Homo sapiens: one gene and its partners. The protein of the gene in region 6 purifies or fractionates together with the protein of the main gene of each other region. This does not show direct contact. Each region holds a gene or a part of one and is shown on either strand. Other genes may lie near its edges.

Evidence for each region.
Region 1: the proteins of CFH (region 6) and FARSB purify together in Homo sapiens (affinity purification with mass spectrometry, with the first as the bait; one large-scale study listed by BioGRID). This does not show direct contact.
Region 2: the proteins of CFH (region 6) and GNB4 purify together in Homo sapiens (affinity purification with mass spectrometry, with the first as the bait; one large-scale study listed by BioGRID). This does not show direct contact.
Region 3: the proteins of CFH (region 6) and LRP8 purify together in Homo sapiens (affinity purification with mass spectrometry, with the first as the bait; one large-scale study listed by BioGRID). This does not show direct contact.
Region 4: the proteins of CFH (region 6) and MGA purify together in Homo sapiens (affinity purification with mass spectrometry, with the first as the bait; one large-scale study listed by BioGRID). This does not show direct contact.
Region 5: the proteins of CFH (region 6) and UCN3 purify together in Homo sapiens (affinity purification with mass spectrometry, with the first as the bait; one large-scale study listed by BioGRID). This does not show direct contact.
Region 7: the proteins of CFH (region 6) and MYO1C purify together in Homo sapiens (affinity purification with mass spectrometry, with the first as the bait; one large-scale study listed by BioGRID). This does not show direct contact.

The regions. Positions count from the first base shown.
Region 1 is NC_000002.12:222,642,370-222,646,690, forward strand, and holds part of FARSB (phenylalanine--tRNA ligase beta subunit), read right to left. Parts: intron 3,978-4,321; exon of another isoform or gene 3,253-3,977; intron 2,553-3,252; exon of another isoform or gene 2,516-2,552; intron 637-2,515; coding exon 482-636; intron 1-481.
Region 2 is NC_000003.12:179,399,010-179,403,330, reverse strand, and holds part of GNB4 (guanine nucleotide-binding protein subunit beta-4), read left to right. Parts: intron 1-2,011; coding exon 2,012-2,118; 3' UTR 2,119-4,321. UniProt on the Homo sapiens protein: Guanine nucleotide-binding proteins (G proteins) are involved as a modulator or transducer in various transmembrane signaling systems.
Region 3 is NC_000001.11:53,261,457-53,265,777, forward strand, and holds part of LRP8 (low-density lipoprotein receptor-related protein 8 isoform 1 precursor), read right to left. Parts: exon of another isoform or gene 4,296-4,321; intron 2,941-4,295; coding exon 2,713-2,940; intron 1,109-2,712; coding exon 990-1,108; intron 752-989; coding exon 612-751; intron 1-611. UniProt on the Homo sapiens protein: Cell surface receptor for Reelin (RELN) and apolipoprotein E (apoE)-containing ligands. LRP8 participates in transmitting the extracellular Reelin signal to intracellular signaling processes, by binding to DAB1 on its cytoplasmic tail.
Region 4 is NC_000015.10:41,750,339-41,754,659, reverse strand, and holds part of MGA (MAX gene-associated protein), read right to left. Parts: coding exon 4,045-4,321; coding exon of another isoform or gene 4,042-4,044; intron 224-4,041; coding exon 93-223; intron 1-92. UniProt on the Homo sapiens protein: Functions as a dual-specificity transcription factor, regulating the expression of both MAX-network and T-box family target genes. Functions as a repressor or an activator.
Region 5 is NC_000010.11:5,367,541-5,371,861, reverse strand, and holds part of UCN3 (urocortin-3 preproprotein), read right to left. Parts: intron 1-4,321. UniProt on the Homo sapiens protein: Suppresses food intake, delays gastric emptying and decreases heat-induced edema. Might represent an endogenous ligand for maintaining homeostasis after stress.
Region 6 is NC_000001.11:196,650,294-196,655,305, reverse strand, and holds the start of CFH (complement factor H isoform a precursor), read right to left. Parts: upstream 3,264-5,012; 5' UTR 3,189-3,263; coding exon 3,131-3,188; intron 1-3,130. UniProt on the Homo sapiens protein: Glycoprotein that plays an essential role in maintaining a well-balanced immune response by modulating complement activation.
Region 7 is NC_000017.11:1,478,639-1,482,686, reverse strand, and holds part of MYO1C (unconventional myosin-Ic), read left to right. Parts: intron 1-128; coding exon 129-209; intron 210-1,801; coding exon 1,802-1,981; intron 1,982-2,061; coding exon 2,062-2,160; intron 2,161-2,981; coding exon 2,982-3,095; intron 3,096-3,184; coding exon 3,185-3,256; intron 3,257-3,951; coding exon 3,952-4,048.

The DNA of each region.
Region 1 (4,321 bases), on a different chromosome or scaffold from region 6:
GAAACTAGAGAGGCCAACTAACTTGCTCAAGATCACAGAGCCGTCATAAGATCTTTGGTTTTTCCAGTTAGGAGGCTTCACTCCTGAGCTTCCTTAGAACTCATAATGTAAGGGTATTTATTGCTAGCTCTCCATTTCCTCTCAACTTTTAACACATCCAGTGAACTACTCATTCCAATTAGATCACGGAGGGGAATCACACACACCTGCTAAATAATTTTTTAAGACGCCATAAAAGCATTAAACACCAGTTTTAAAATATGTTCTCAAAGATGAATGGCTATGACTAAAATTTTCATGGAAATTTTCAAATGGCTACAATCTGCATGAATCTAATTCCTCAAATCAACCCTCTATTGAGAGCTAAAGCTACGTTCCTCTACAAGCTTTTTCCTAGAAATTTAAACATGGCTGCTGATAATGACAAGGAAAGAAAAGAAAACCCAACTTAGCAAAGTCTTTAAGGAACATATTTCCTTACCTTTCTTTGAAGACCTGAAGTCCTCGAACCAATCCTTCCAGACACAGGAGATCATATCTATTGGCAGGGACGTCAATTTTGTAAAGAACAACATCAGAGGCTCCTGCTGCCTTTACATTACCTTGTTCTTTACTTATTATTTCCTTCTCAGATGTCTAAAACAAGCCAAAAAGTAATGATAAAAATTAAATAATTTAAACTCTCTTTAAAAAGTAAAAGTTGTCAGCCCTATAAGGCAGTAACTACATTATACATATTTTCTATAACAAGAACATGGGATTATTATATCCACGACAAAAACAACATGAAAATATTAAGTGTTATAATCATAGCAGACAGAAAAATACTTCAGCTTTAACTGAGTTCAGATATCTGGCAACCTCAATCACCCCAGAAAAGCACAAATCCATCTAAACAAGGGTCAGCAAGCAATAGCCCCCTGGCCAAATCATACCTGATACTTGTTTTTGTAAATAAAGATTTATTGGAACACAGACAGACCCATTCATTTACATATTATCTACTGCTACTTACACACTGCAATAGCTGAGTTGTAACAGAGACTATAGAGCCAAAAAGCCTAAATATTTACTATCTGGCCCTTTACAGAAAAAGTTTTCCCATCTCAAGCTAAAAGAAAATTAAAACATCACCAAGAACATAAAGTAACAACAACAAAAGTGTCAAAGGGGTAAAAGAAAGATGATTCACTAAATAAAAGAAACACAACTTCTTATAGGATGACTCTAAAACCTAAATCCTGTGGGCACCCAAGTCCACATGAGAATGAGAGGGGTAGTATAAAAACTAAAAACAGTCAGAGACCATCAGACACTGGTAAAAATTAGAAGGGATAATAGGTACAATGGGAAGCAAACTAGTGATAGCAAAGGGATAGTGCAGCAGAATGAAGGCAGCCAAGAGGGAGATGACAGAAGAAACACCACTAGAATCACGTTTAATGCAGTGGCAAAGAGTTTAGAATATCTCAAGCACCACACTACAGCAGAGTAACAGATTTTCTTAAACATAACCACTGCAGAGAAGTTACACTCTATTCCTTATGTTTACTACAGCAGGGAACTGTAAATATATTTAAGAAATTTTCACTTGAAATGATTACAAGTTGTATTCCAACTGTTAATGTTACGCTTTAATTATGTGGAAACTCCACTTAACCAGAATTCCTACTATTTCCACCACCAACAACCTGCTAAAATAACTGATGGATTTCTATCAAAATATGTAATGATTTTTGTTTTACATGATGCCCTCCCACTGCCACAATATAAGTAGTTCAAATTTTTGTCCAAATTAAGAATTATATCCACATTTGCACAATATGCAGAGAAATTCACTTCTGGCCACGAGTATTATGTGCCAAAGTCCCACCTGAGGAACCACAGGAGTCTATGCAATGCTGGGGCTGTACAAGGTGGTGCTGGGCTCCAAAAAACCTCTACCTTGGGCATCTCAAACTTAGGAGGCAAATTTTTATAATTAGGGAAAATGAAAAATGAAAAACAAGAGAATGAAGAGGAGGAGGAAGGAGTAAAAAGGGGGAAAAGAAAAGAAGGGGAATGGGGAGAGGCAAAAAGAGAAGAGGAAGAATTCGAGTTTAAACAATGTTCAATCAAAGGGGTTAATAAAATTACTGTTTCAATAGTGAAGAAAGCTGAGTCACCTCCCAGGAGATGGCAGATCTCAGGAGGGACCTATATACAGAGAAGATAATATAATAACCGGAGAAATGAAGGCATCTGCATTCATTTTTCAGCAGCACCCCCTTATCCACAGGGGATATGTTTCAAGCTCCCCAGTGGATGCCTGAAACATTGGATAGGACTAAATGTTACATATACCATGTTTCTTCCTATACATACATACCTATGAAAAAGTTTAATTTATAAATTAGGCACAGTAAGAGATTAACAACTAATAATAAAATAGAACAATTAAAATAATATACTATAATAAGAGTAATGTGAATGTAGTCTCTTTCTGTCTCAGAATTTCTTATTGTACTATACTCACCTATTTTCAAACCACAGTTTGCTGCAGGTAACCAAAACTGTGGAGGCAAAAAACTGTGGATAAGGAGGAACTACTGTAAAAAAAGATCTAATTCCTTTGCAAAAAAAAAAAAAGACACAGAAGCTTACATCTTCTTTCAGTTTCAGCATCTCAGCTCATACAATGACCATATGTAAAGACTGAATTTGTCAGTGCTACCTGACAATAATCTTACAGAAATTTAAAATCACATAAATTTCAGAGTCAAAAAAGAAAACCATAAAGATCATATAATCCAAACCCCTTATTTCACAAATGAAAAGGAGGCCCAGAGAGACTCGTCTGGACTATAGAGTTCAGACAGGCAAAGTAATTGTCCATAGTTACACAGCTAGTAAATGTTAGAACTAGAACTCAAATAATCTAACATCCAGTCCAACACTCTTAGATATCACATAATTTCAAACATAATTCTGAGGTGTAGTAAAATTACGAATAGCAACTTATAAACTACAGAAATCTCAGCCAATTTCTCAAGTATACAAATAGATTAGTACAAAGATGATCTTTCTGTAACATTAGTAAGGCAGCAGGAAAAATAAGGTAAGATAATGTACAATTTTTTAGCCTGAACATTTTTTAACTTTACACCTAAGGTAGTGTTATAAAAGCACTGAATAGGTGAAGATAGAAGGCTTAGGAAAAAAATAATACTAACTATCAGAAAATTATCTTTTAAATTAAAGTATGTCTTTTTTTTTTTTTGAGAAAAAAATTGGGCTTTTATTGGCAATTACAAAAGTAATAGATTTTCTTACATAATACGTTCCTTCAGTAATATATTTTTCAAGTATTTTACCATAGAATTTCTAAAGTACTTTGTCATTGACCCCATAATTTATTATAAAGTAGGTCCCATAATCACATTTTTTGGAAGTTGCTGAAATTGAGATAAAAAATATTGTTTTTTTATGAGAAAAACTGGACAAAATACAGAATGGCCAAAACTAGATTAACTGGCTCAGTTATGTCTACTAGGTGAAAGAAAATACAGAATCTGTTACTGTAGAAATTTTAAGAGGTTTTGAGTCAGTTCCAGTATAAAAATAAGGCCAAAGTTCTCCTGTAAAATCATCATTAAAAGTACAGAGAAGAGATCTATCATTCAAATTATAAAAGGAAACCTCATTCATTTCACAGTCTAAAAAAATGCCAATCTTACTAGGTGTTACTTTTGGCAGCAGAATAATTTCCTTATGGCCCAATACAATATAATTATTCCGACTAGATTACCAAATTCTCCATAATCCATCCTGTACTAAAATTGGTTGACTCTTCCTCCTTGTGGGAGGAGAGTCACTACAGACACCAAGAATCCATTCAGGCATGTCTTTAACTTCTACTTCCCGGTACTGCCTGCCACAATTTTATCCCTTAGAACCCAGAACAGCTGGGAGCAGATAAAATCTTCTTGGGTTATGAGGTAAGTTTTGTGTTGTATTTCCATATCGCACAGTTTTTCTATCTTCTGAGACTATAAGTTTACGATGTGCTGCTTCAGGATCTAGAATTACATCTACTTGAAATCGCTTGATAATTTTGTTTTGGCCACAATATTGTGGAGACAGATGGTAACCATATTCTTTTAATTTGAATAAAAAAGGTTTAGGGAATTTTAAATTCTTATGTCTGTGATAGATATCCTTAACATCAGCCAGTAATTCCAGTTCTGACTTCACATATATGCTCTCTATCTTCTTTAGTAGATATTTTAATGAGGAGGTATAATCTGAAAATTTTGTTAGGCTTTCATTTAGTTGTGCTAAA
Region 2 (4,321 bases), on a different chromosome or scaffold from region 6:
TCTTTTGTGTTTCCAAGTTTTTTTTTTCTTCATTTTTGGGGTTTCCTGTCTTTATTTTTAGAATATTTCCTTAAAAGTGTTAATTCTTATTCATACTTAAGAGCGAGGCACTAAAACCATTTGAAGCTCTGGGCACGTGGCTGGTGTGCTGACTCGGCCTCCATTTACTCTAGGCTGGCCGTTCACTGAGGAAGCTTTGCTGTGTCTGCCTTTCTGCCTTTCTTCCTTTTTCCATCTTCCACTTTCCTCCATGAAGTGTATAAACTGGCTGCCAGTTTGAGGGCTGATTTCAAGAGAAAACCTGAGGGACCACAACATTTAGCTAGTAAACTTTATTCCCCATTTCAGCACAGTTTTATCAATCGCATCTGTGCCTGTTTTCTTCCAGTCAGGAGACCCTGTTTTACCCTTTCCTCTGAGTGAGTCTCTGGCCTTACGCCACAGCGCAGGATGATCTGTCACCTGACTGCAGAGTGGAGGAAGGGGACACCTGGGGGCTCTTACTGATTGATGAACACTTTCCAGCACAATCTTATTTTACTCTGCCTTTGCCCCTACCTGTTCCAGAGATACCTGGTTCTACCTAGTAGGGACACTTTTGGAGAATCTGCAGTGTAATTTTGTTACTTGGCTTACTATTCATTTTGAACTCAGTATTTTGGGGTTCATTAACACAGTTGCCACCATCCAGCTTACGAAAGTTCGTTGCCATTGCCTGCTCTCATCTCACTGTCCTTGTGGATTTATGTCCTTACCCTTTTAACCCCCGCTATGCAGTTGTTGGGGTTCCTGAGGGAGCAGAGGCAGTGTAAGTTTTTTCCAGGAATAATTTTCTACAACCTCTTTCAAGAGACTGCATGGTTTGCAGTTTTACACTTTGCAAGTAGATTCCTGGAAGTATTCCGTTGCTTAAGGCCAATTACCTTTTAAAGATATTTGGTGTTTTGCCTGGATTGAAACAATTAGTATCCATAACAAAATAAAAATGTGCTTGTTGTCCACACTTATATGCTTGAGGTTTAGTTTTGCTTTGCCTACAAGCTGGTTTCAGGTTGGCTCAACTGGAACTTTGAACTTAAAATTGGATCCTGACTTGTGAATTGCTAATTCATTTCCCTCTCCAGTGTGACTTAAAGTATTTAGCCACAATGTTCATTTTTTTTGTTATTTCAACTCATAATGGTAAATTTTCCCATTGCCAAACATGGCCATACTGGAGATACTATAGAGAATATTAAGAGTTACAAGATGAACTTCTGTTCCTGATTGATCGAAAATGATATGCTTAAGAATAGAGAGAGAGAATGCAAATTCAAACACTGTATTTAAAAATTTTGAGCATTTGATGTATTCTAATTTTTCTTATTAATCTTACTGTATTTCTTGTTTTCTTCCAAAATACTGGAAATACATCAAATGAGTTTAATGTGTGAAAGAAATGAAAACTAGATGAGTTTCATGGTTTCAGAAAGTTATAACCAATAACATTCCAGAGTTTGGTGATTAGCATAAGAAAGTAAATGAATTATGTTGGTATTCTTGGAAGCAGTGATGTGAGGCAGCTTTGTTCTTACGTTTTTGTCGTTCCTGTGGTGAAGGGCTCCTTCAGTGAACTTCATTGAAAATCTTGTTTTTGTTGAGAATAGCATACATAGCTCAGTAGCAAAATTTGGAATATCGAGAACTTATTAGAGATGTGGAATAATTGTCTGCATATGTTTTCCTAGATATAAGTTGAATTATAAGATGATTTTTCAAAAATTAAAACCACAAATTGATGCATGTCAAAATTCAAATAATCCAAATTTATAAATACATCCAGCTTACTCCTAACTTGTCTTCTTACTCAGAGAAATTTGTTGTTTTCTTTTAAATTATTATTATTTTTTAACTGATGAACTTTCAAGAAAACTGGACTGATAGTTTATAAGCACCCTTTTAAATCTCTGCATATACTTGTTTAATTCTAAAACCCTACAATTGCCAATTTTTTACTGAATTTTTTTTTCAGGTGTCCTTGCTGGTCATGACAACCGTGTGAGCTGCTTAGGTGTAACTGATGATGGCATGGCTGTGGCAACAGGCTCTTGGGACAGTTTTCTTAGAATCTGGAATTAACAGTGTCATACATATTTGTTCTCCATTGATATATCTGGAGAAATCAATGCTACAGCCTATAGCTGTGAAAAAATTCTACCTTATATTTGCAGGTGAAGATTTTTCTATTAGATTATCTACAAAAACAAGCTTTCAGTAAACTACCAAAAAAAAAGTGGGGGTGGAGGAAAAAAGGCAAAGGCGCCTTCTGAGATCAAAAGGACCAGTGTATTAATTTGAGGGGTTGGGTTATTTTAACCTTGGTGAATTGTTGTGTGTACTCAGAGTGTATTTTCTTTGTGTAGAACAGAATGTACACATTATAGCAGCTCGCCATTGTGTTTGCATTTTTTAAGAAGTACATTTTTAACTTTGTATACACAAGAAATGTCATATTTTTGAGTTTTGTAATGGAAGAACCAGGCACAGAAACAGACAGAAATGATACTGTATGTGTGTGTATTTATGTCTGAAGAAAGTCCCCTTGAATTCTGATATCTCTTTGAATCTAAGAGATCCTGATAGCTTCATGTTTAAGAGCATTGACAGGTGGGGCACCTCTGAGGGGAGTTCATTGTTTCTCATGCATCATTTGCCATATACTATTAATCAAAGTGCTTGCTTTCAGTCCTTTGAGGGGACAGATAATCTGAAGGCCAGAGATTAGAGATTTCACTGATATTTTGGACATACATAAGAAACATCATTATAATTAATAAAAAGTAGGTAATAGCATATAAATGGTTCTTGACATTTTAAAAGCCTGGTTATGATCAGTTGACACTTTGAGTACCCCCCTAAATAGCTGGACTTTCCTTTTCATTTCATATTTGGAACTAAGTTTGTAGCGTATACTCATCTTTCAGAAGTTTGGTAAACATTGGGATTGTCCCTGCATCTGAACATCTTTCCCAGTGCTATCAGTATACATCTAGAGAGGAAATGCAATGTGACAGTGTTACATTTGGAGAGAAGTGTGAAATCTAACCAATCGCTAGCACATATTTGTTGTAATACGGTGGTTTATTTCATGTTTGCATACTATAAAATCTGAATTGATGTGAAATATCTGTGCCTTTAAATTTCTTAAACCTTTAAGCTTTTTGTTCTGTTTTGCAACATTTTGTAGTATTTCTTCCCTTCCTTAGCACAAAATACTGGTTTCTAAGTGGTTTTGCTTCAAAGGATGTCTAGATGTAAGTGATTCCACTTAAAGCCAAAATAAAAATTCCTAAAGCAGTTCTTAAAGGAGTTAGAGAGCTATATTAAACAGTTTTTCTGTGGTATAATAATGTGTCTCTTACTAGAAGTCCCCCACGACCAAGTTAAAGATACTTTTCCTGTTGGATTCTCTTTTACAAATAAGTCTAAATGACTGATAATAGAAGATTGTTAGTCTTGCTTGATGGTAAAGTCTTGGATTATTCTGATATATAGACGTGCATTGTTTTGTAACTTAGTTACTTTTCAGATAGGTCTGTGTTAACTTTTGAACATGTGTAACTTAACCTAAATACTCCCAAACTTTACCTCTAAATTTTTGTTTTTATGTTGTGAATGTGCTAATATGTGCATCAACTGTAAAGATGTATCAGTTTTATTAAAATCAGTTGACAATTAGAATAATAAAGTGGATAAAGGCAAATTAAGATATAGGACCAAAACAGAATATTGTAGATGGCAGTTATGAATGTATATTTATATTTTGATTAAGATTTCTATTAACTTTTTGGCTGGGCAGAGTGGCTTACACCTATAATCCCAGCAATTTGGGAGGCCAAGGTGGGCAGATCACTTGAGGTCAGGAGTTCGCGACCAGCCTACCCAACATGGTGAAACCCCATCTCTTCTAAAAATACAAACATTAGCCGGGCGTGGTGGCACATTCCTGTAATCCCAGCTACTCGGGAGGCTGAGGCAGGAGATTCGCCTGAACCCGGGAGGCAGAGGTTGCAGTGAGCCGAGATTGTGCCACTGCACTCCAGCCTAGGCGACAGAGTGAGACTCCATCTCAAATTGGAAAAAAAAAAAATTATATGAACTTTTGCTATTAATGTTTATTTGTAGGCTATTTATATCACTTCATAAAGAACAGTTCTTTGAGAAAAGAATAAAGGAATGTATTCATTTCCAGAAAAAGAGGGTTGGGGAAAGTTTGCCATGTAGGTTAGTCAGAAGAAAGCAATTCTATTATGCATAAAAATAACCTTAAATATGTAAGAGA
Region 3 (4,321 bases), about 140 Mb from region 6:
CCCTTGGTGGTGGAGTTAGTTTTCGGGAAGAGGTGAAGGTGTGAGACCTTGGTTGGTTCTGGCTTCTTCATTCCCGGAGAAGAAAAGTCATTAGGGTCAGGGCACAGGAGGGTCTTCGCTCCTCACTTTGCTGGGAGCTTCTTGAGACTAGGATAGTGTCTGATTCACTTCTATGACCCCAGGGTCTGGCAGAGGTCAATAAAAGTGTGCAGAATTGAACAGCATCTCTCAGGCCATTTCCTCCAGTAAATGATTCTAAGGATATGTATGTTCCTTCTTCCTTTCCTCCCTTTACTGGGTGCCTTTTGTATATGGGTTACAGTGCTGGGTGCTGAGGGCACAGAGAGGAAACATACATGCCTAGCAGCTCACCTGTGAGAAGTGCTCTGGGAGAGGGGTCTTGGGAAGAGAGCGTGGGAAAGGCTGCCAGGTGGAGAGTGGGCTGCAGAGCCTTTGTGTGCAGGCAGCTCACAGATTGTTTACAAACAAATCAGTTGGTTTCCCTGTTCCTGTTTTCATTTGAACAAGTCTCAGGGACTCATCCTATTTGAACAAGCATTTTCTAGGCTTCAGCTTCCTAGTGGGCCCTTGCCTCTCCTTACAGGACTCACCTCAAACACAGCTATCCCAAAAGGGTGGCTCAGGAAGTCAGTGGAGGAGATCAGCGTCTTTCTGTTGCCTCCACTGAAGTCAATGCTGGACAGTTGGTGTAGCTTGGAGTCTACCCAGTACAAGCGCTGGCTCAGCAGATCTTGGGAAGGAAGCAGGATCAGGTCATGAACCTGGGACCCCAGTCTGGAGCTCTGTTCCTTTGTACCTCTCCCTGCCCACATTTCTAGGCCTCACACTGAGGCCAGCCTACGGCAACCATTAGGAAACAAAGTCACTGGCACCATGAGAGGACCCAGAAACAAGACTCATGGAGTTCCAGACAGTGATCAGGACAAGGCACTAGAATAGGCCCCCAACCCAGGAAAGGCAGGGCTCACCCAGGGTGATTCCGTTGGGCCATTCAATATTGTCTGACACCAGTGTTTGCCGGTCCACACCGTTGAGCCCAGATTTCTCAATCTTGGCCTGGTCCCCCCAGTCAGACCAATACATGAACCTAAAAGACAAAATAACCCAATTTGCCTTCTTGCTGGGGACATGACCGGGGTGGTCTGAGTCACAAGAGCTCAATAACCCATTGACTAGTTGTGGTTTATGTTTAGTAGGGACTGAGAAGACCTCTAAAGTTCTTTTGAACCATCAAATCTTAGATTTAGCAGGCACTTTAGCCTTCACCTCATTTGAGAACTTGAGGAAAACTATTCTCCGAGATTGCACCCAGACTCAGCTGAATAGCCTGTGACCCCATCTCTCCCACTTCTGGCAGTGCTAACTAACTAGAGCCCTAGGGTGTCAGTGTGGGGAAGGCCCTAGTAAGCCCTCTCTTTTCTGGTTTCAGAGGAGAAAGTGGATGAGCTTCCTAACTCAGGTAACCCTCCCTGCTTTTGTCTCCTCAGGCCTACTAGGGCCAGTAGCAGCCCACTGTTACTAATCCAAGGTAGTAAATTAGACCTAACCCACTCCTTTGTAAATAGTCCCTTTATTAAACCCTCCTCTGATTATCTTGAGTATGCAGTGGGTTTCCTCCTGGGACCCTGACGATCCGCAGTGGATTGGGGTTGGGCTGGGTGTAACTCTATGATGTGAGGGACAGGATGTGGCAGGTGCAACACAAGGTCTGCATGAGAACAGACAGAGAACAGGGATGAAGTGAGGGTAAGAGGAGAGGCTCCGTATCTGTCAGAGTGCCTAGTTCTGTGCTGGAAGCACCTGACCCATGCTTAGTGAATGGCAGCTATCAGTCACTTCCCAAGGCCTCACATAACCTCCCATGTGGTACTCCCCTCACCAGCTGCCCTTGCTCGAAGAAGAGGGTTTTCTTATCCCTGTTTAACAAGGAAATAGCAGTAGGAAGCAGCTGTTGATTCTGTTAAACTTAACATGATATAACGCTAAAAAAACCATCTCAAGATATCCACACTGAGGGAGAGAGGGAGTCCTGTTCTGTTCAGAATCCCTAACTCCCAAAACTGAGGGGTGGCCAGAGCAGGGCAACCTAGGTGGTGAGGGCCCAGAGACCATAGGCAACAGGGGTAGGGATGGAGGCAGGCAGTCTGAAGCAGAACAGACCAGTGATCTTGGTCCTCAAATCTTGCTGGCTCTCTCACAGGGCAGGGAATAGACATGTTTTATGTAACTCCAGAGGCCAATGGAGGAAGTTGCAGGGAGATAGATTTGGCATTATGAGGGGAAAAGACCCACTTTCTAATGAGCAGAGCTGCCCCACGGTGAAACAGGCCCTATGGGAGGTAATGAGCTACCTGTCTTTGGAAGTATGTGAGCAGCTGTCAGATGCTCACCTACAGCAGCCTGAAGAAAGGCTTCCTCCCCCAGGAGCTTCTATCAGGCCATCTCTAGAGCCCTACTCTGCTCTGAGACACTCCAATTCTACGATATAACGAGTGGGTGGGAGAGTCCAGGGAGAACTTTGGTGACCAATGCCCAGAGAACCTTGGTTGGGGATTAACAAGACTTTCTTCCCCATGGCCTGTGTCTGAGTGGCCCAGAGCTTTCTAGAACCCTCAAGATAGCCCTTGTGACAGACACAAGAGGACTGAGCACCTATGGTGGGAGAATGGGAAGTTCAGTTGGGACACTCACCCTCGCAGGGGGTCAACAGCGATGGCCCGGGGTTCACTGAGGTTACGGCTGAAGAGAGTGCGTCGGCGGCCACCATCAACTGTGGCCACTGAGATGGTCTTATTGCCCGAGTCAGTCCAGTAGATGTGCTTGTGGACCCAGTCCACTGCCAGGCCCTCTGGAGAGTGCAACTGCTCGTCAATGAGGACCTCCTGCTCTTTCGGGTCACTGGCCTTGTCCATGTAGGCGCTTAAGAGAAAACAGAGATGACCATGGGGCAGATGTTCCACCCATGGGCCCATCTGGAGCTACCTGTGCACCCTTCCCCTCTCTTCCATCTGGGCCATGGCAATAGATTTTTAGAGGAACGTGGATAATTTCCACTCTACACATTCCCTGGGGTACCAGGGTAGGGGTACAGACTTACATGGGCCACGGTCTCTGGCTTTCTAAGGTGGGGCTGCTCCACAGCTCTGCCCATTAGGGTGAGCCAGATATAATACAATGTGATTATGGAAAGCATTAGAGGCTATGGCAGCAGAGGCATGGAGACTGCCTCATCCGAGAGGGCGGGAGAAGGCTTTATAGTTGAGTCCTGAAGGACGAGTTCACCAGGAGCATGAAGTCACCAGGACAGAAAGCCATTAGGGAACAAGAAAGGCTTGTGCAAATGGCCAGAGGTGAGTCTGCTCTGGAACAGTGAGATACTTAGGGGAGCTGCTTATGTGGGTGTCAGACTGCAAGCAGGTGTAGGCAGGAACCCCATCTTGATGGGCTTTGAGTACCACGCCAAGGAATTAGGATTTCTCCCCAGTGATAACTAGACAGGCCAGAGGATATAGTCCAATAAGCATGTTAGTTCACTGTGGCATCTATGGAGTGGATGGGTTGGAAGGAGAGGGAATGAAGCAGGGAAACTGGTTAGGAGGACGTTACAGCATCTGGGTGGGAGATTAAGAGAGTCTGAAGAATGACCGTGCCAGTGAGAATGGAAAGAAGGGCTAAGAATACAGTAGACACTCAGGAGGCAACATTAGCAAAATAGCAAATGCTGTTTCCCCAGAGGTTTTCTTCTTCTTGCCCTCTCTCTGGGTGATTAGTTCCTTAGTGTCCACTGCCATCAATAACTAAGTCTCCAATCCCAACAGCTCTCTTACGATCCAGACTGCAAAGCTAACTAGCTCCCCTTGGATGTCCCATGGACACCTTGAACTCAATATGTCCAAAACTGTTCATCCCCATTCCCTTCCCCTCGGCCAACCAGACGGCCCAAACCCTGAGCCCTGATCCTCCTCTACTGCTTCACACATCAGAGAACAGCACCACCATTCATGAAACCTCCCAAGCCAAAAACCTGAAACTCCCAAAATTCACTATGAAGGAGTAAATTTCTTCCATCAGCCCCATATCTAGTCTGTCACCAAATCCTGCCTCTTTCAGTTACATCTCTTGGACAGGCATTGTTCTAGTTATGTTTTTGGGTGTGTGTGAACGGAGTGTCTGTATGTTGCAGGGAGGCAGGAATCTAGTTGTCAGTGAGTAGCACTTGCTATATTTGCTTCCATCCACTCTTCCACCCATCTGTCCCATCATTCTTTCATCAGTGACTCAGTGTCTACCCAGCGCCTGG
Region 4 (4,321 bases), on a different chromosome or scaffold from region 6:
ATGAGTTACCCAGAGCTCCTGAACAGAACATCTCATTTTGTTTCTGGTTACAAAACTACAAAAACAACAATCCAAAGAGAAATAAGACTTACGGCTGTTTGAATGACTGTGTGTGGGCCGCTGTGGTCTTCAGGTGAGCAACATTAATTTCCTCTGAGAGCTCTTCTACAGTCTCAATGTCCACGTGCTCCTCATCATCCTCAATGTATTCTACACAGTTATTCTGAAATACATCATTATAAAAGTAAATAATGTATTGAGTGGCAAGCACACCTAAACTTTTCAAATGTTTGTTCCCCTTATAAAACCAACTAATGCCAGACATTCATGTTATATCATGAGTACTGATAATCCTAAGATTGTTAGTCATAATAAGGAATTAAGACAGAAAGATAACATATCATTAGAATTAACAATCAAGAACTATAAGTCATATATATATGTGAGCCGTGGTGGCTCACACCTATAATCCAGCACTTTGGGAGGCCCAGGCAGGTGGATCGTTTTGAGCTCAGGAGTGCAAAACCAGCCTGGGCAACATGGCAAAACCCTGTCTCTACAAAAAATACAAAAATTAGCCAGACATGGTGGTGCTCGCCTATAATTACAGCTACTCGGAAACCTGAGGTGGGAGGATTGCTTGAGGCCAGGAGTTCGAGGCTGCAGTGACCCAAGACTGCACCACTGCACACCAGCCTGGGAGACAAGAGTAAGACTGTCTCAAAACAAATTAAATAAAAAATAAATAAACAGACATAATTAAACTTAACAGCATCCTCAAAGGACTGCACTGATGCTTCAGTGTTATTTCTAGTGGACAAAATTCAGGCACAGATATATTAAGGTTTCATAAATCTTAAGATTAAATAACAGTAAAATAAAATTTGGTGAAAGAAATATAGAAAGGAGAAAAATTCAAGTGCCACTTTAAGGGGGCTTCATGACCAACATCCTATCAGATGCCCACAAATCAACACACATTAGCATACACAGGCAGGTATAGAAATAGGATACAGCCTAGTCCTGCAACTCTCTCAAAACCACAAAATGAGAGCTTGTAAGGAATTTCAGGTTTCAAAAAAGCCCACGATTGCTGTATTTCCTTATTATACCAAAAAAGGAGTCAAAGTGTTTACTGAGCACCTGTCACAGAAACTTGCTAAATATTTTATGTAACACTAGAGTTATGTGGATATATAGGATAAGCAGATCTTTTTAAGTCCACCTTTACAAATAGTATTTGCTTGCAACATTTCTGTGCCCCCTCAAAAAAAAAAAAAAAGTGTTTACTATGCCAGAAACATAGTAAATGAGCCCACCTCCCGGGATTCAAACGATTCTCCTGCTTCAGCCTCCCGAGTAGTTGGGACTCTAGGACTGTGCCACCACACCTGGCTAATTTGTGTATTGTTAGTAGAGATGGGGTTTCACCATGTTGGCCAGGCTGGTCTCAAACTCCTGACCTCAGGTGATCCGCCTGCCTCAGCCTCCCAAAGTGTTGGAATTACAGGCGAGAGCTACAGCGCCTGGCATAACTGCAGTATTTCTAAATAATATTCCAATAACTTCCACAAGGAAGATTTAAATTAAAGAAGCTATTTACAACTTCCCTCACAGTATTCCAATGCTAATCATAAAGGTAACGTAGGTGTGAGATGTGCAAATAAAAACAGTGTAGACTTTAGATTTTAGAGATCACTTAATATGACCTTTAAAAAAAAAGTCAGTATAACTTGTTTGCTTGTCAAATTCCCTATTAGTACATTCAAGCAATGCCTCCTTGTATGATTAAGATACTTCAGGCCGGAGGCAGTTGCTCATGCCTGTAATCCCAGCACTTTTGGGAGGCCAACGTGGGTGGATCACCTGAGGTCAGGAGTTCAAGACCAGCCTGGCCAATATGGTGAAACCCTGTCTTTACTAAAAAAATACAAAAATTAGCTGGGCATGGTGGTGCCCACCTGTAATCCCAAGCTACTCGGGAGGCTGAGGCAGAAGAATCGCTTGAACCGAGAAGGCAGAGGATGCAGTGAGCCGAGATGGCACCACTGCACTCCAGCCTGGGCGACAAAGCGAGACTCTGTTAAAAAAAAAAAAAAAAAAAAAAAAACTTTAAAGGTTCTATTATGTAAGTTCCACTAATAGTAATAGTTTTCACTGGTTTTAAAGTTGAACTGTTTTTTGGTCTCATGTTAACTTGGGCTGACTTACAGTGTGAGACTGCAAAAAACACAAAAAAATCAGCAATATAACTCCTAAAGTCAATGAATTTACATCCATTCTTGAAAAAGATTAGGCTATGGAGAGAAGGTATAAGTCAAATGAATACAGAATCATCCAATTTTAGAGCAAGATCCTCCTTTATAAATGAGACAATGGAGGTACTCAAATAACCAATATAAGAACATTAAGACCAGCCTGGCCAAGATGGTGAAACCCCATCTCTACGTAAATACAAAAATTAGCTGGGGCGGTGGCAGGCTCCTGTAATCTCAGCTACTCAGGAGGCTGAAGCAGGAGAATTGCTTGAGCCCCAGAGGTGGAGGTTGCAGTGAGCTGAGTTCGCACCACTGCACTCCAGCCTGGGCGACAGAGTAAGACTCCATCGCTAAAATAAAATATTTCAACATTTTAGATTTTTAAAACAGTAATCTTTTTGTCTTATTTTATGTGCATAAAGCAGTTAAGCAATAACAGAAAAGGACCAGATAACACAGAGGCAGAATGAATCTCAAGGAAGTGAGATTGTAAAACAAGCAGTTGTATGACAATCAGTGCAGACGGCTGTCATCTGCTCCTGAAAAGAAGGACACAGTTTAGATTTTAGGGCACTCCACAGGCAGCTGGTTATGATCTCCCCATGTTTTACATCAGACCTTATGTCAGGGGTCAGCAAACCACAGCCCACTAACAACTTCTTTTTTTTTTTTAACCCGAGACAGAGTTTTGTTCTTGTCGCCCAGGCTGGAGTGCAATGGCGCGATCTGGGCTCACTGCAACCTCAGCCTCCCGGGTTCAAGCGATTCTCCTGCCTCAGCGTTCTGAGTACTGGGATTACAGGCACCCATCACCACACCTGGCTAATTTTTTGTATTTTTAGTAGACACGGGGTTTTGTCATGTTGGCCAGACTAGTCTCAAACTCCTGACGTCAGGTGATCCACCCACCTCGGCCTCCCAAAGTGCTGGGATTATGGGTGTGAGCCACCGCACCTGGACTTTTTTACTAAAGTTTTAATGGAATACAGCTGCTTTTATACTACAACAGCAGTCAATTAGTCGCAACAGAGAGCCATCTAGCTCTCTGCAAAGTCTAAAACTATTTACTATCTGGCCTTTTACAGAAAACGTTTGTACAACTCCTGCACTGTATCAATACCTGACAGTTACTTATTTAAGTAAATACAACAACCCTAAATAGGAATCCTATAAAAAAAACTTCAGGAAAATAATAAAAATAGGCCATAAAGGTCATATTACAAAGGACGAAGACCAAAGTCTAGAATATAAATTCCAGAGACTAAATATTTAATTTTTGGATATAAAAGCAACTCAAGGCAAAATGGTACTAGAATATGATGGTATTTTCCAGTTTTTCTCCAAAAACAAAAACATCTCTCTATATGCAAGTGAATAAGTTCTCCTCTAGTTCTAAGGTCACCCATTCCCAGTTTCTGATTAACATCTACCAGAGAAGCTACAACCACCTCACATAGAAAACGTCATAGAAATTGACTGAGGTCAAATGGGAGTAGTGGTTTCGGGATTTTAAAAATCTAACTCGGTAGGGACTCTCAAGCACCTATCCCCCAAATATTTAAGCCAGCCTTCCCATAAAACCAGACAAGTCTCAAAGAATAAAAGCTCAATAAATGATGCTTGATTGACACAGCCTAAAGAACTACTAAGCCATTTAAGTCATAATCTTAAACCTAGGCATCCAATTAAATGTATTATGCCTTAGTGCTCTTCTGAAAAAGCTTCTGTCTTTAATAAATCATTTAAATCCTTTAGGTTTCAGTCACAACAAAAATGGGCTCACCACCTTTTCTACATCATCAACCTCCTCACTCTGGTAGTCAGAAACAACATCCACAATTTCATCAATAGAATCATCAGTTTTCTCATTATCATCTTCATCATCTTCTTCCAAATCCAAAACAGTGAAGTCAGCACTGCTTCTCCCACCCTTCTTCTCTTGCTTTGGTTGTATCTGTTCTCCAGGTAGCAGTAAGTGACCCTGAAAATGTCCATTCCCTCTGCTGCTTTTTGCAGCTCTCCTAGGAACAATGGAGAAGGCTGAAGGATTAGAAATCCTACTC
Region 5 (4,321 bases), on a different chromosome or scaffold from region 6:
AAACATGTGGTTCACTATCAACTTGGGAGAATCCTTTTCTTACGTTAGTTTTTCAAAATAAATAAGAACAATTGGGTAAGTAAATCACCTGGTGATTCGCCTGGGCCTTCAGCAGCGTGAGGCTGGCATTGGGTCATTTTGTTCCTTGCGGTGACAGTGCAGAGCAGGGCCAGGCAGGGCTGGCAGTCGGTGCTCAAGCTCCAGTCTCTGCTCTGCAGCTCCTCATCAGTGTGGCCTTGACGAGGCCATTTCCCACACATGAGTGCAGTGGACCCAACCCAAGCCCAACCAGACAGCCTTAGGCTGTGAGCGATGGACAGAACCAGCGCTGACCCTTAGCAAAGGGAGCCTGGGTCTCTTTCTAAAGGAGGATCCTGTAAGTCCCCGCTGCTTCACTTACCCTGGAAACAGACACACACACAGGACGCACAGGAACATAGACAAGCACACATACAAACAGGTACACATACACATACACATGCACCCACATACAGATACACACATATATACATGCACACATGTGCATATACACACCTTACACGTACATACACATACATATAGACACATGCACACACATATATACATGCACATACACGCACACACACCTCACACATACATATAGACATGCATATTTATACATGCACACATATGCACACATACACACCTCACACGTACACATATGCACATACATACACATGCACACACATATACATGCACACATATGCACACACATACATACCTCACATGTACATGCATACACACAACCATACACATGCACACACATACACACCTCACACGTACATACATACACACACATACATATAGACACATGCACACACGTATATATATGCACACATATGCACACACATACATACCTCACATGTACATACATACACACACACACACCTTACACACATACACATGAACACACATATACACACGCATATACACACGCATATACACACGCATATACACACGCATATACACACACATACACACGCACACACACGCGCACACACACGCGCACACACACGCGCGCACACACACGCACACACACATATACACACGCATACACACACACACGCATATACACACGCATATACACACACATCATATACACACACATATACACACGCATATACACACACATCATATACACACACATATACACACATACACACACACATACACACACATACACACACATACACACACATATACACACACATACACACGCATATACACGCATATACACACGCATACACACACACATATACACACATATACACGCATATACACACACATATACACACATATACACGCATATACACACACACATACACACACATATACACACGCATATACACACACATACACACATATACACACGCATATACACACATATACACACACACATACACACGCATATACACACGCATATACACACACACATATACACACACATATACACACGCATATACACGCATATACACACGCATATACACACACATATACACACGCATATACACACGCATATACACACACATACACGCATATACACACGCATACACACACGCATATACACACGCATATACACACGCATATACACACGCATACACACACGCATACACACACGCACATACACACACATACACACGCATATACACACGCATATACACACGCATATACACACACATATACACACACATATACACACGCATACACACACATACACACACATACACACACATATACACACGCATATACACACGCATATACACACGCATATACACACATATACACACACATACACACGCATATACACACGCATATACACACACATATACACACACATACACACACACATACACACATATACACACGCATATACACACGCATATACACACACATATACACACACATACACACACACACATACACACACATATACACACACACATATACACACACACATATACACACACATATACACACACACCCACGTGGATAAATGTTTACCCAGCACATTTCCTGTCAAAGCCTGTTCCTTCCCTTGGTTCTCCACATTGCAGCTGTTGCCTTTCTTTCCTTTAATTTTTTTGTCTAAGAAATCAGGTTTTGCTTTGTTTGTTCCATTTATTTTGCATTACAAAAATTTTGAGAGCTTATTTTATGCACTAATATTTTTCATAATTTATGAGAAAACACATGATCCTCGCTTTAAATAGTCCAAACCTATGAACTAGCCAGATCTGGGCATGTTGCCTGGCGAAGTGAGAACAACACAGGCTTTGGAGTTAGACACAGGCTCGAATTCCTTCTTCGTCCTTATTTCCTTATTTGCCTGAGGGTTTGGGCCGATAACCTCTGTGAATTTCAATTTCCTTCTCTGATAAATGGGATGGCAATAACCACCTCATGAAGGTTAAGTGAAGGATTCGATGAGAAACGTCAATGTGTGTATGAAAGCTCCTTGTCTGAGCAGATGCTCAATCAAGGCTGACCCACACCTGAATAATCTCCAGGTCTTCTTAGGAGAAGATCTGGTCTGCACACAACCTTTTCAGAAGTGCATTTTACACACACAGTTGTGTATACACAATACACATATGTACAGAGAGACCAGGAAATCTGAGCAAGCATTTGATCCTGCAGAGCAATGTCCTTGTTGTATCGTATCTCTGGCTTGTAGCTTTTGGCTCCATGCTACCCTCTCCACCCTGACCTGTGCAGACTCCTTTTGCCCTTAGTCTAAGTAAGCGGTTCTCAACTTTCAGGTGCTTTGGACTCATGTGAAGGCGCGGTTCAAACACAGCCTGCGGGGCCCCGTCCCAAGAGTTTCTGAGTCACTGGGTCTGGATGCTCCTGAGAACATGCATTTCTAGCACAGTCCCACGTGATGCTGATGCTGAGGTCTGAGGGCCACACTCTGAGAACCGCTGCTCTGCGTGCTCTGACCCGACTCTGGACTCCTTAGAGCTGTACCCCGGAGTTCCAGGGGTGCACTAACCGTCCCTGTGGAAAATGGGCTTTTCTTTCCTTAAATGTTGCATTCAATAGGCAGACCTTCAGCTTTCTCATTTACAGAGGACCTAATGAGTTGTTTTTCATAAATAGAGTATGAAGCATGGTTTTAGCTGCCTTATACCTTGAAGGCATCTTAAAGCTTGGAAATTATTTCGAATGGCTTGCTAACCCTGAAAGGGTTTAAAAAAACAAAAACCAATTTGGAAAGGTTAATACTGGGGGGAAAGTGGTGGAGAAACTTTGTCTCTCTGTCCCTTTCTTCCTTCATCCCTTTTTTCCTTTCACTACCAGACTCAGTCCTGTCCCTCCCACTCACTAGCTCATGCCTAACCGCCCAGGACCTCACTATTTTCCTCTGTGAGAGCAGGGGATTGAGTTCGAGAATCTTTGTTCTGATTTCTTTCTTTTTCTACTTCTGAAAGCCAGAGGTCCCTCTACGAAAAGCACTGGGAGAATGAAATGAGTTCTTGATTTTCACCAAATGAAAGGCGCCTGGACTCTGGGTGGGTGTAAGCTAAAATAGAGGGTGCTGGCCGGACTGGGTGGCTCACACCTGTAATCCCAGCACTTTGGGGGGCCGAGGCAGGTGGATCACCTGAGGTCAGGAGTTTGAGACCAGCCTGGCCAACATAGTGAAACCCTGTCTCTACTAAAAATACAAAAATTAGCCAGGCGTGGTGGCACACGCCTGTAATCCCAGCTACCCAGAAGGCTGAGGCAGGAGAATTGCTTGAGCCTGGGAGGTGGAGGTTGCAGTGAGCCAAGATCATGCTACTGCACTCCATCCTGGGTGAAAGAGTGAGACTCTGTCTCAAAAAAATAAATAAATTAAAAAAATTAGAGGGTGCTGAGATGCAACCCTGGAGCTACCCTCAGGCCTCCCTCTGTGGGTTCCACATGGCTCTCTCCCCACTGCCCCACCACCCCATTTGTTTATTTTGCTTCCTCACTCAAACCCTGCACCCCAGCCCAGGGAACCCCTCCCTGCTCCTTTCTATTTCCTTCCCGGGGCAGCATTCTGCATTTACCCTCAAGCACTTAGAACTTTGCAGAATAATTGCAAATATTACTGAGAACTCAGACTACTTTCTGAGTTCAAGCCCATCTTGGGGCTCTGCTCACACGGACTGGCCCTTTAGTGTAAATCAACACTTGAGTTTACCTGTCTATCTCCACCCCTTAAAGACACTTTGGGTGTTATATTTCTTTGGTGTCTCCATTTCTGCTAAATATGCCAAGCCTTTCACTATCCCTCTGGGTCATTTGGCTCTCAGCAGTGACTCAGGATGCTTGG
Region 6 (5,012 bases):
ATAGCACTCACTATAGCACTTCAACCAGCAGATCTGTCCTACCTGGGAAAACCCCATCTTCCAGAATCACTTTGTTCTATTCTTATCCTCATCAACATCCATTTCTACCCTCCCCCGCCCACTGAAATTGTTTCAGGGAAGTTGTCAGATGATAATAATTCAAAGTAAATTATGAATAATACTAAATTTAACTATCCTAAAATATGTATTCAGTGTATTTGTCATTCCATGTAAATGACAGATTGGTTGAAATTATAGTAATATTAATATCAACACGTAAAGTATTTTAGGAGGAGATGAGATATTGAAGCCAATTGGGCCATCGCACAATTTAAATCACACCATATAGATAAATACACATACTACTATCTCTGAAAATATGGGGGTTTGGGGGAGCAAAGGGGAATTCTTATTTATCACACTGAAATTCAAACATACAATTTAGGATTTTAGACCACTATTCTCCTTTCTCTGACTGTAATGGAATCCATCAATCTCTGATCTATAAAGTCTTCTGGGACCTGAAATAACGTTTCTGCACTCTAAATCTCCAGGATTAAAAAACATGTCTCCCAAACAACACAGCCAGTATTTACTTGAACATGTTTCAGTAGAGTTTTAATTTATTCACTTTAATCATCTTGGAATTTCTGGGCTGTGGCCTAATTTCATATAGTACACAATTGTTAGACCCTAAATCTAAAAAATCTGCTTGGTCATAATATATTCAAAACCTTGGTCATACTATATTTCAAAAAGGTGAAATTAGGTGGTACGATTGAGAAACTGTTATTTTAAACTTTGTCCTGTAAATCTGACCCAATTCTTAGTAGCCTGCAGTGACCCCCTGAGCCAGACTGTTAAAACAAGGAGGCAATTAACGTTCCTACACAATTGGAAATGTTATTGTAGACAATATATTGCATTAGAAAGGTTCTATGTAGTACCCAATATATTAAAAAAAGAAAACAAATAGAAAGCTGAAATTACAAATTATTCCTGCTGGCTATAATTCTTTCTTAGTAATGAATAGTGTTTTTTTTGAAGAAAGTTCACTCTTAACAGAGCAGAAGTAATGCTAAAATGTTATGCTGTTGAATAAAGCAGATTGTGATAGTATTCAAACTATCTTCTCAATTTGGTATTCAGTATTCAATGTGGAAAATATAAACAGAAGCAAATATTGAAATATATGTGAGTATTTTTCATGATCAAAGCTACTCTGTTAAGTAAAAATTTTTTAGATATGGTAGATTAATAGAACTGATGGACATCTCGAACTAGTTTAGTTTCAGAGAGTATTTGGGAAACAAGGAATAAATTAGGAGTCTGATATCCACTGAAAATTCATGTAGTTTTTCTCCATTGGCTTTTGCATTACATGTGCTTTTATGAAAATTATGAGGCTGGCCTAAGCATTGCTTTAAATACAAAGTTGTGCTTTATCTTTTAGGAAATAATCAGATTTATATCATTTTCACCATAACATATATAGTGCCGATGTTCAATTCACCAGTAGAAACTGATACCACATTTAAACACACATTGATGAAAAATAAAATAAAAGTGAAACAAGTCAGCAATAATCAATTATGTAAATAAGATGTTTAAATCACTATTGTTTAATTATCACATATACTTTGATGTACTCTATTTTAATAATATTTCAAATTCAACTTTTTAATAACTTAAACTGTTTATTAAACTTGCCATTGATTCTTGATTTTAAAGATTAGAAATAAAACAAATCTCCCTTATATGACAAATGGTATCTATGTAAAACTGGAGCAAACAGTATGTAGGTATGAAACGTTAGAAACATTCCCATAAATTTAGTAAGAAAAGACAGAAATATTTACACAAAGAAACAGAAAAAGATGTCTTTTACAATAGGTAATATTGACATTGTTCTGGAACTGTTTGTAAATACAAAAAGGTTTCATTTTAAAATACTAATTATAATATTTATATGTACAAGGAAATAATTGTTTTCTTCATTTAAAAAGTGGCTACATATAAAGTTTACAAGCCAAAGAACAAGCAATAACATTAGAAAATATAACTGAAAATAATTCAACCTTTCAAAAGGTATTAAACATATTTGAATATTTTTTAAATTACCAAAGTGTATAACTATAAGAATATATCTGCTTTTATTTTCTAGATTGGAAGACTGAAACAGAGATTTGTATTATTTGCTAATATTCTTCAGTTCCTAGAGGCTATGTAATGGTCACTCAATCAAAATTTCTTTACTAAGTGAAAAGATTTTAGAAATTATGAATAATATGTAATTCATTCAGTTTAAAAATGTTTACCAAATATCTATCACATAACTGGTTACCTATCAAAAACTAGGAAAGCAAACCTCCTCCAAGAATAAGCTTTTTAATCTATCAAGAAGCAGTGATATAATTAAATTTTATTATGAATCCAGAAATTGTCTTACTGAGGTCAGAAAAAAACTCCTACATTCATATTCACTACTCCAAAAGACTGCTCTTCAAGAATATATGTTATATACAACTACAGGAAAAAAATCTCTATTGAACAACTTAACTGTTACAAATATTGTATATTCAATTGGGTTTCAAATTTATATAATATTTTTATTCTGATAATACAAGTAATACTTGTCTACAAGAATTCTAAGGTCATGACAATATCAGTTGTAAATGATAAATGAATTTTTATTTAGGAAGAGTTAAAATCATATTTGAAATAAATCTAATCATTATGATTTGATGGCTTTTATTGACTATGTATATTCACATCCTTCTTAATGCTTTCACATAATACATTTTGGTTATACTCCTAAGCAAAAAAGTAAATTACATTTTATGATAATTACAAGGGAAATGATTATTCCAGATCATAGTTTTTCAGAAATGTTTATTAAAACATTTTATTCTATTTTATATTAAATATAATTATGATGAATATTTAGATATACCATTCAAATAAGGTTCTTACATTTTTTAAACTCAACAATGTCAAAAGCCACTCAATTGTCAAGTTACAGAATACTTAAGCACATTTTCTAAATCAAATTTTTATTACTCCTGTGAAAAGCATCATTAGCAAATGTTTCATAATACAGTTTTCAGAAAAGAGTCTCTTTTAATCTTACCTTCTGCTACACAAATAGCCCATAACATAAGGCAAATAATCTTTGCTAGAAGTCTCATTTTTTGGATCTTTTAAGAGGACATTTACCAGCTAACTCTGTTCACAACGTCCAGTTCTCCTCTTCCAAGAATTGTGATTAGTGCAGGAAAGAACTTGCTGCAAAAGGAAGTTGAAACTAGATGCTCCGCCTATCAGAAACTTTTGCAAAGTAAATAAAAAATCAACCACAAGCCACAAGCCCAGAAATGCCAGAAGTTAAACCCAATTCTCACTGCACTCCCACTAAATGTTAATGCTGTGACCGGCTCTTGGACTTTTTCTTATTAAGCTAGGGAAATTCTCCGTTGGAAAATGTTCATGTTCTTGGTATGTGCAAATCAGCAGCTGGTGATATCCTCTGGATTTCATAAACCCTTCAATTATTCAAACTCTATTCGGGTCTATTGTGTATAAACCTCAGAACAGGAAATAAGAGAAACTTTAAAAGAAATCACATACAAAACTTTGGTTTAGGCAATGTTTTCACAATCAGCACCCAGACAATGTGTACAAACTTTGCCAAGAATGCAGTGCTTGATGAATTTGGGGGTCTGCTTTTCTAGCAATTTATGAAATTAGTTTTCTAAATACTTTTTGTATATGTGTATGAAGCAACTGGCTCACTCTCATTTGACGTAAATAGGTTTAATAATCCAAAAATCAACAAATTGAAATGCTGATTTTTAAAACTTTGTATTGTAGTGTAATATGTATAAGGAAAACATAAATCATATGCTGGATATTGAGAAGGTAAAGATACCTGTGAAACCACCACCAAGGTCAAAACACTGAACATTATTACATCCCAGAAAACCCCAGTACTCCTTTTCAGTCAATACGCCTCTCAACCCTCTCCCACACCCCCCACACACAGAGACCACGATTCTGATCTTCAAGAACATGGAATATATTTGTCTGGCTTTTGTACTTTGTATAATGAAAAAGAAGCAGTTTATTCTTATGTTTAGAGTTTTTCACCAAAAATTGTGTTTGGACCATTCAAACACATTGTTAGATGTAGTTACAGATAGTTCATTCTTATTGCGATTTAATACTCCACTTTTTGAATAGTTCACATTTTATTTATCTGTGTGCCTGTTAGTGAGCATTTGAGCAGATTTTAGTTTGGAGCTGGTATGAATAGTGCTGCTATGGGCCTTATATTATGAGGTTTTTGGTAAACACAATCCACATTTCTGGTAAGTGCATACTTGGTAGTGAAACACTGGGACATAATTTATGTTTAGGTGTAATGGATAAAATTAGACAATTTTCCAAATGGATTATAACACTTGACATCACTTGACATTTCTATCAGCAGTGTCCAAGTTGCTCCATACCCTCAGAGATACTTGGTAATTTTAATCCTTGTAATTTTAGCTTTTCTGGTAACACAAAGCAATAATTCTCCGTGGTTATAATATGAATTTTCCTGATGACTAATTGAAATGTGAGAGATCCCTGATTCCCCTTGAAGGACATGCAACAGGTGTGCGGCTTGCCAGTTAGGTCGCCCTGCAGCTCAAACCCCTTACGGGGAGGGGGAGCACACAGATGCACCGGTGCGGGAACCGGAGTGAGCGCTTTCGGGCTCTGGCCTCACAGCAGCATCTAGGGGTGGGTGTCTGCGATTTCCGAAGCCCAAGTGGGCGTATGTTACAGTGTGCTCCTTTAGCTTTGCCATCTGCAAATGGTTTATGTGTTAATCAGCTCAACAAACCCTCTTCCTTATCTCATGGGTAGTGGGACAGTGAAATAGCCCTCTATATCCCCAGCTGTTGCCCAGTGTCCCAAAAGAATCGGATCACACGGGGGCTCGAGGGATGAGGGCAACTTTTTATTGA
Region 7 (4,048 bases), on a different chromosome or scaffold from region 6:
GGGAGGGGAGGGGAGGGGCAGGGAGAGAAGCCCAGTGCGGGAGGGGAGGGGCAGCAGTAGCTACAAGGCGGGGTGGGGAGGGCAGGGGGAGAGTGCCAGGTGTCCCTCATACCCCTGTCCACTCCTAGGCCTTTGGAAATGCCAAGACCCTCCGGAACGATAACTCCAGCAGGTTCGGGAAGTACATGGATGTGCAGTTTGACTTCAAGGTACCATGGATGTGTGTGTCGTGAGGATTCCCATTCAGTAGGCTCTACACGTGTGAAGCACCTACTGGGTACCAGGGACTATTCCAGGTGCTGCAATTCCAGCAGTCAAACAAAGCAAACAAAAATCCTGCCTTCCAGGGTGATAAACAATAAACAGGGAAATTGAGGCCGTGGCAGAAAATAAAATGCAGTAAGGAGTGGGGGGCAGGTGCGGTCGTATTAGGGTAGGCCTCACTGAGAAAGTGGCATTTTAATAAAGGCTTGACAGCTGGGTAGGGTGGCACATGTCTGTTGTCCCAGCTCCTCTGGAGGCTGAGGCAGGAGGATCACTTGAGGCCAGGAGTCCAAGGTTACCCTAAGCTATGATCATGCCACTGTACTCCAGCTTGGGCTACGGAGTGAGACCCTGTCTCTAAAAAAAATAGAAAATAATGGCTTGATGGAGATAGGAGCAGGCTGTGCAGGTGCCTGTCCAGGCAGCGGGAACGGAACAGCCAGGACAAAGGCCTGAGATACGAGGGTGCTGGAAGTGTTCCAGGACAGCACGGAGGCCACAGCGGCCAGAGAAGAGAGCAGGGGCCCGCGAACAGAGAGAGGCCAAACGGTGCAGGCCCTTTTGGGTTGTTGCAAGAACTTTTTTTTTTTTTTTTTAACTCTGAGTAGAAGGGGAGTCATCGGGCTGGGTGAGGTGGCTCATGCCTGTAATCTGAGCACTTTGGGAGGTTGGGGCAGGTGGATCACGTGAGGTCGGGAGTTCAAGACCAGCCTGGCCAACATGGTGAAACCCTGCCTCTACTGAAAATACAAAAATTAGCCAGGCACGGTGGTGTGTGCCTGTTGTCCCAGCTACTCAGGAGGCTGAGGCAGGAGAATTGCTTGAACCCGGGAGTTCGAGGGTGCAGTGAACTGTGATTGCACTACTGCACTCCAGCCTGGGTGAAAGCAAGACCCTGTCTCCAAAAATAAAAAATAAAAAAATGACTTTAGCTGCTTCACTGGGAGATTGGGAGTAGACGAATAGATGGGAGGGGAACCAGGCTAAGCAGGGAAAACGGTTAGGGGGCTGATGTCATCATGTAGGTGACAGGTGACATTGGCTCAGACCAGTGTGGTGCAGTGGAAGTGGCGAGCAGTGATTGGATTCTGGATGTTTTAAAGGTTAAGGCAGCAGGATGAGCTGCCTGATTGGATGTAGGGTTTGGAGAAACACAGGCTTCCAGGAGGACTGCCAAGTCCTTGGCTTGAACAACGAGAAGGATGTAGTCACCACTGACCAAGGAGGGCAGACACTAACAGGAGCTTGTTTGAAGAGGGAGAAGGTCCGGTGTTGAGCTTCAGGCCTGTTGAATTTGCGATACCTGTCAGGCATCCAGGTGGAGCAGCCAGGTCGTTGGAGTTGAATCTCCCCATTTCCTAGATGAAGTAACTGAGTCCAGCGTGGGTGGCGTGCCTGAGCCGACGCAGCTAGTGGCAGGGCTGGAATTGGCATCCAGGTCTGGCTGCCAAAGCCCAGGAGTGCAGGGGAGAAGAGGGGCAGGTGGGCTCTTTTCCCAGTCCCCGTGACCCGGCCTCATGCCCTGCCCTGCCCACAGGGTGCCCCCGTGGGTGGCCACATCCTCAGTTACCTCCTGGAAAAGTCACGAGTGGTGCACCAGAATCATGGGGAGCGGAACTTCCACATCTTCTACCAGCTGCTGGAGGGGGGCGAGGAGGAGACTCTTCGCAGGCTGGGCTTGGAACGGAACCCCCAGAGCTACCTGTACCTGGTGAAGGTGAGTGGCTGGCAGGGAGGGCAGGTGCCACCCAGGGATCTGGTGCCAGGGCTGGCAACCCAGCTGTGCCCTTCCTCCAGGGCCAGTGTGCCAAAGTCTCCTCCATCAACGACAAGAGTGACTGGAAGGTCGTCAGGAAGGCTCTGACAGTCATTGATTTCACCGAGGATGAAGTGGAGGTGAGGCCTCTTCCGGGACCCTCGCTTTCCTCCTGTCACACCCCCAAAATCTCCTTTTTTTTTTGTTTTTTATTTTTTGAGACGGAGTTTCATTCTTGTTGCCCAGGCTGGAGTGCAGTGGTGCAATCTCAGCTCACTGCAACCTCCGCCTCCTGGGTTCAAGCAATTCTCCTGCCTCAGCCTCCCGAGTAGCTGGGATTACAGGCGCCCGCCACCACGCCCAGCTAATTTTTTGTAGTTTTAGTAGAGACGGAGTTTCACCATGTTGGCCAGCCTGGTCTCGAACTCCCGACCTCAGGTGATCCGCCTGCCTCAGCCTCTCAAAGTGCTGGGATTACAGGCGTGGGCCAGTAATCCCTTTTTTTTTTTTTTTTTTTTTTTTGAGATGGAGTCTCGCTCTTTCGCCCAGGCTGGAGTGCAGTGGTGCGATCTCAGTTCACTGCAACCTCTGCCTCCAGGTTAAAGTGATTCTCATGCCTCAGCCTCCTGAGTAGTTGGGATTACAGACACCTGCCACCACACCTGGCTAATTTTTGTATTTTTAATAATGATGGGGTTTTGCCATGTTGGCTGGGCTGGTCTCGAACTCCTGACCTCAGATGATCCTCCCGCCTCAGCCTCCCAAAGTGCTGGGATTACAGGCGTCAGCCACCGTGCCCATCCCACCCGCAGAATCACCTTCCACCTTTAACACCCATTCCCACTTCCAGCCCCTTCTCTCCGACACTTCACCACCCACCCCTGCATGGCCATCTGCTAGTTGCCCTCTTGGGGCTCTCTGGCCCCTCTCACCCCCTCCTGCCCCCGGCCTGCTCCCCCAGGACCTGCTGAGCATCGTGGCCAGCGTCCTTCATTTGGGCAACATCCACTTTGCTGCCAACGAGGAGAGCAATGCCCAGGTCACCACCGAGAACCAGCTCAAGTATCTGACCAGGGTGAGTGGGGCGGGCAGAGGGCGACGGGAGGACGGCGGGGGCGGGGGCTGGGGGTGCACCCTCACCGTGTCCTCGCCTGCCCTTGGCAGCTCCTCAGCGTGGAAGGCTCGACGCTGCGAGAAGCCCTGACACACAGGAAGATCATCGCCAAGGGGGAGGAGGTGAGGCCGGGCCCTTGCCCTCGGGTGTGGAGGGGCAGCTGTTCCAAGGCAGCCCCTACTCCCATCACTCCCCTTCGCCTGGTTCCCTCAGCAATGCTGGAGGGATGGAAGGAAGGCTGCTCAGAGAAGCAGAGTGAGAGCCGAGCGCCGTGGCTCACGCCTGTAACCCCAGCACTTGGGGAGGCTGAGGTGGGCAGGTCACCTGAGGTCAGGAGTTCGAGACCATCTTGGCCAACATGGTGAAACCCCATCTACTAAGAATACAAAAATTAGCCGGGCATGGTGGCGGGCGCCTGTAATCCCAGCTACTCGGGAGGCTGAGGCAGGAGAATCGCTTGAACCCGGGAGGTGGAGGTTGCAGTGAGCCGAGATCACGGCAACAGAGCTAGACTCTGTCTCAAAAAAAAGAAGCAGCACAGTGAGCTGGCCAGGGTCACATAGGAAGAGAGTAACAGTCCGGCTAGAACCAGACTCCCACCTCGGGAAGGAGGCCTCCTGTCCCTCTACCACCTTCCCTCTGGGGTGGCCACCTGTCCTCCCTGAGGTCCCACTACCAGCACCCCTCCCCATACTGCAGGCTTGCTGGAGCTGGGAGTGCAGAGTGGTGGCGGCTTCCTGGTCTGCCTGAGCCTGGGAGCAGGTGGGATGCACAGGCTCTGTGGCATTCATCTCCTTGTCTCACGCTGCGTCCACAGCTCCTGAGCCCGCTGAACCTGGAGCAGGCCGCGTACGCACGAGACGCCCTCGCCAAGGCTGTGTACAGCCGCACTTTTACCTGGCTCGTCGGGAAGA